2 separate regions of the Homo sapiens genome follow, and region 2 is linked to region 1. Evidence: fine-mapped expression QTL. Tissue or cell type: whole blood. Region 1 holds a variant in brackets; the other region holds the start of a gene. All regions are shown on one strand. Distances are between the middles of the regions.

Region 1 (2,682 bases):
TCAGAGGCCAAAATCAGGGCTCATGCTTGGTGAATCAGGCTAGATTTTAGCGCCATTTACAGCCCAACCTACCTTCCATGATAAGCTCCTTTGTACAGTGAATAACCTGCTCGACTGTATGTGGTAACCCTGAGTGCAGGAAACAAAGGTGAATAACACCTTTCACACTTGAGGAGCTCAACTGGTCAAGGAAATAAATATGGAAATGTATATGATATCATATGACATAATAAAGGTATGTTTGAACATTATAGGAGTTAGCATTGAGACGGAAATGTCATCAAAAATAAGGAAGCACGAAAACATGAATACCCTTGAGCAGAAAGGAGCAAGTGGCCTTATTTCTCTACCCCAGTGGTTCCCAAGTCTACAGGGTCATCAGAATCATTCGGTGGGCACTTAAAAAATTACAGACCCCTGCCCTCTACGCCTATCCCAGAGCAGGTCTGAGGCAGAGACTAGGAGTCTGCATCATAATAAGTTCCTCTAGGTGATTTCAGTGATTTGCTGGGTTAGGAACCACAGGTGTGAACCAAGCCCCACCCAGCCTCTACTCACCCAGTACCCACTTTCTCTTGGTGAGATAATAGTGTTCAGTACTTTCTCCCTAGAATAAAAAGGAAATGAAAGTTCTGTGGTCTCTAAAGCGGACTGCCCAGGTGAAATTTCAGTTCTGCTTTAGAAAGACAAAAGGCACCTGAGACCTGTGATGGCCGACACATCCAAGGGGCAGGTTACATGGGGTCACATGAGCCTCTTGCACCCACTGATGTGGCTGCTGCCAGGATGCAAAGAGAGGAAGGTGCAGCCTGGCCAGGACAGTGGCCTGTGAGCAGGAATTCTGATAACAAACCCTCAGAGGAAACCAGTCTGGTGTCTGAGAACCTGACTATGATGCTCATGCCCACCAAAAGACTCTTCCTGACTTCCTTGATTATGACTTTGGGATGTGTATTTGGGGAATTCAGTGCTGCCTTATTCAGTTGAAGGATGAAGTATGTTCCTAGGGCACCAGTGTGGCTTGCAGCAGAGTTTTCCTATCTATGAACATGGAATATCTATCTACCTATCATACTTCTTTGATTTCTTTCATCAGAGTTCTGTAGCTTTTCTCATGTAGATCTTTCTTTTTTTTTTTTTTTTTTGAGATGGAATCTCGCTCTGTGGCCCACACCACACTGGAGTGCAGTGGCTTGATCTCGGCT[C/A]ACTGTAACCTCTGCCTCCCAGGTTCAAGTGATTCTCCTGCCTCGGCCTCCAAGTAGCTGGGATTACAGGTGCCTACCACCACACCCAGCTAGTTTTTGTATTTTTTAGTAGAGATGGGGTTCCTCCATGTTGGCCAGGCTGGTCTCGAACTCCTGACCTCAGGTGATCCGCCCACCTTAGCCTCCCAAAGTGCTGGGATTACAGGCATGAAGCACTGCACCCAGATCTCATGTAGATCTTGTACATGCTTTGCTAGATTTACACCTAAGGATTTCATTTTTGAGATGCTAATGTAAATGGTAATGTGTTTTTAATTTCAAATTCCATTTGTGGGCTAGGTGACAATGTGATTCTCCTGCCTTAGCTTTCCAAAGGGCTGGGATTACAGGCAGTGGTTCATGAGCCCAGGAGTCTGAGACCAGTCTGAGCAACACGGTGAGACCCCATCTCTACAAAAAATTAAAACATTAGCCATGCATGGTGGCATGTGCCTACAGACCCAGCTACTCAGGAGGCTGAGGCAGGAGGATGACTTGAGCCAGGAGGTAAAGGTTGCAGTGGTCCACATTCATGCCACTGCACTCCAGCTGAGTGACAGATCAAGTCCCTGTCTCAAAAAAAAAAAAAAATTTACTTGTTCATTGCTGCTACTTAGGAAAGTGATTGGCTTTTGTTTTTAACCTTGCATCCTGAAACATTGCTGTAATCACTTATTAGTTCCAGGAGGTTTTTGCTGTTGTTGCTTCTTTTGGATTTTCTACATAGACAATCATGTCATCTGCAAACAAAGGCATTTATATTTCTTCCTTCCCAATCTGCATAGCTTTTATCTCCTCTTCTTGTCTTGTTGCATTAGCTAGGACTTCTGGTACAATGTTGAAAAACAGTGGTGAGAGCGGACAGCCTTGCCTCATTCCTGATCTTAGCAGGAAAGTTTCAAGTTTTTCACCACTCAGTATGATGCTGGTTGGGGGGTTTTTAGAGATGTTCTTTTATTTACTTATTTATTTATTTATTTATTTATTTATTTATTTATTTATTTAATTTTTGAGATTGAGTCTCACTCTGTTGCCCAGGCTGGAGTGCAGTGGCACATTTGGTTCACTACAAACTCCGCCTCCAGGGTTCAAGCAAGTCTCCTACCTCAGCCTCCCGAGTAGCTGGAATTGCCCCCCACCATGCCTGGCTAATTTTTGTATTTTTAGTAGAGACAGGGTTTCACCATGTTAGCCAGGCTGATCTCAAACTCCTGACCTCAAGTAATCCTACGCCTCAACCTCCCAAAGTGCTAGGATTACAGGCATGAGCCACTGTGCCCGGCCTATAGATGTTCTTATTTAAGTTAAGGAAGTTTCCCTTTATTCCTAGCTTGCTGAGAGTTTTTTCTTTTTTTTTTTTTTTTTTTTTTGAGACGGAGTCTTGCTCTGTTGCCCAGGCTGGAGTGCAGTGGCACAATTACTGATGTGATAGATTATA
Region 2 (2,682 bases), 490 kb after region 1:
TTCAGAGAGACATACGTGGGGAAACTGAGCAGATGAGCCAGGGCAAGACCATCCACGCTTCTTCCTAGGACATGAGACCAATGTCCCCAGGGCACTGAGGGCAACAGGAGATGGGGCTGATGAGGAAGGAGCCTTTAGCCAGGGGATGCCTCTCTCTTGTATAGCGCAGGCTTTAGAGCCCCCACGGTGAATTCTATGCTGCACTTTGAGCTGTCTAACTCTGGGCAAATCTCTGAAGCCCCCCCTCTGAGCCTCAGTGCCCTCATCTGCAGGACAGGGATCAATATCACCTGCCTCAGCTGTGAGGACGAGATAAGCCTGAAAGTGCAGGTGGATGTACCCGGCATGAGGAGGCGCAGAGGCCCTGCCTGTGCCAGGGAAGGCCTGGGGCTCCCTGCAGCAGGAATGTGCCCAGCCGGCCGATCACAGGATGTGGACGTGAGTCAACCAAGCGAGAAGTTCCATCTGGAAACTCGGGCATGAGGTTTAAATGTGGTCTGCTCTGCCTCAGGCTGGCTGTGACCTTGAGCTGGTGATGTCCCTGCCTCAGTTTCCTCACCTTCTGATGGAGATGGGAGGGGAAGAAAGCAGCTGCCTCTGGGTGGTGGCAGAGATGCCCATGTCTAGGACCTCCAGGCCTTAACTAATCAGGGGCACTGATGAAGCCAGCGGGGCTCCACTGGGGACCACAGGCAAGACTGGGCCAGGACGAGGCGGTCACGCAGAGGTGAGGGGACCACAGGCTAGCGGGAGGGAATACACGGAGAGTCCAAGGGGAGAGGAAAGTAGAGAGTGAGAGAGCTAGAGAGAGGCGGGTGGGACGCGGAGAGGACAGCGAGGGAGGGATGGGGCGTGGGGCGCGGAGCGATGGGGGAGAGGAGGCCGAAGCGGGCGAGCCTGACTCCCGGGTCCTGGGAGCCGGCCCAGGTCTGATGAGGACCAGTCGGACGGGGCGAGGGATCGGCCGGGTCCATCACGCCCGGGGCGCGGGCCCCGAGGGTCCTGCTGGCACTCACCGTGCGGCGGCGGCGGCGGCGATCCGGGCGGCCCCAGCCATCCAGCTGCGGTGCCGCGCCCCGCCCAGGCTCTGCCCCGCCCGGCCGCCCGGCCGCCCGGCCCCCGGCCCGGGGCCGCCCCCGGCGCGCGGCCACGTCACAAGGGGCCTGTCCGGAACCCGAGGCGCCGCGTGCCGCGGGGTCGGGGGGAGTGGCGGCGGGAGGGCGCTTCCGCCTCGCGGCGGTGGGGGACCCGGGTAGAGGGCGCACTTCCGTTTGGGCAGGGCTGCGGGCCGGAGGGGAGGGTCGGTCGGAAGTGAGAGAGCCACACGCACCGCGCTCAGCCAGGCTGGGCAGGGACGGAAGCGGCGGCTCTGCGGGGACCGCGATCGACCAGGCTGCGGGGCTTGCGGATCTGGCCGCCGCTTCCCGTCCAGGGCCGCAGTCTGCCCGTGGCCGCACGGGGGCGCGCCCGGCCGCCAGACCACGCCGCCCAGGTCGGGCTGGGAGGACTACTGTGCGCTCCTGCTCTGAGTCAGCCCGGCCTGGCTCCTCCATGAGCAAGGGAAAGGGGAAGTGCCTGCCGCAGGGAGGGGCCTGGCCCCGGGAACCTCAGAAGAGGGAATTTTATTCTTACTCATCGAATTATTTTTATGCTTTGGTTTTTCACTGGGAACCTCAGGCCACTGTCTCCAGGGCTTGTAACCCTTTGGGGTCCAATGCATGGTGGCTGGACCCTGCTGATGGGAACTCCAAACCTGGGAGGCGAGGGCTCTGTGCTTCCCTCACCTGGAGGAAGCTAGACCTGACCTCTTTGGTTAGACTAAGGCAGCAAACACTGGATAGCAGTTCTTATAACCGCAATTTACTGACCACCTACTATGTGCTATTCACTTTACTCGCACTATCTCACTGAATCCTCATATTATCCCATTGTGGTGGGTACTGTTAGCCCAGGGTCACACAGTGGCACAGATGGCAGAGCCAGGATTCAAACCTGGGTGTCCTGAAGCCAGAGTATGTGATACCACTTCTCACGTCTAGGTCCTGAACAGCAGTGGGAGTCTGGCTTGGCGTTTCGAGTTTGTATTCTTCTCTGGAAATCAGCCAGTACAGGAGAAGATTCAGGAAGGGGCATGTGGGTACTCACTTGGGCAGAGATAGCGACTGAGTACAGGTCTCTTAAGTCTCTGACCCTCATCAGCCTCCCATGGCAGCTCCAACCATTTACTCTGTCACTTTCCCCTCTGCTGGGGCTCTTGAGAGCACACTCAGCTCTCAGGGCTGCCTCTGGTGCCTGTCCCACTTCATGTTGCACTGTTGGCCTTCCTTAGACCGCCAACTTCTCCCTGGTGGCCCAGCTTGTCTTCTGAAGCTTTCTGTCCATCTCACCCCACCGGGCCCATACAACTGCCAGGACGTTCTGTTCCCTCCCTGAGTTCCAAAATGGAATCCCTGGGTTAGTTTCTTGGCAAAGAAAAGCTACTCAGGGATCCTGCCCTAGGACTTCTAAAATGCCCCCCTCCCTGTATGCAAAAGCGCTCCATCTTATGCAAAGCACTTCACAATATGCAAATGATTTCACAATAACACAGTCAGCATTCCTGCCTCTGGAGGCTGAGCGCTCCTGGCCACCCAACAAGGGGATGGGCAAGACCCAGCCAGAAACGTTACTTGGTGCCAATGC

What was found. PIP is the estimated chance that this variant, and not a neighbour inherited with it, causes the effect.
Region 2: SLC39A13 starts here. The variant in region 1 is fine-mapped to the expression of SLC39A13 in whole blood (TOPMed, PIP above 0.99).

Annotation. Positions count from the first base shown.
Region 1 is chr11:47,897,965-47,900,646 of GRCh38, reverse strand. No RefSeq gene overlaps it. Among named protein-coding and RNA genes, the nearest start is that of NUP160, 51 kb to the right of the region's middle. The variant C/A (reference allele first, on the strand shown) is at 1,206.
Region 2 is chr11:47,406,997-47,409,678 of GRCh38, reverse strand. SLC39A13 (solute carrier family 39 member 13) reads right to left here and starts at 1,089. Exons shown (of 10, transcript NM_001128225.3): 1 at 1,017-1,089. SLC39A13-AS1 (SLC39A13 antisense RNA 1) reads left to right here and starts at 397. Exons shown (of 4, transcript NR_182308.1): 1 at 397-727. RefSeq lists enhancers at 1-696, 985-1,807 and a silencer at 787-1,576.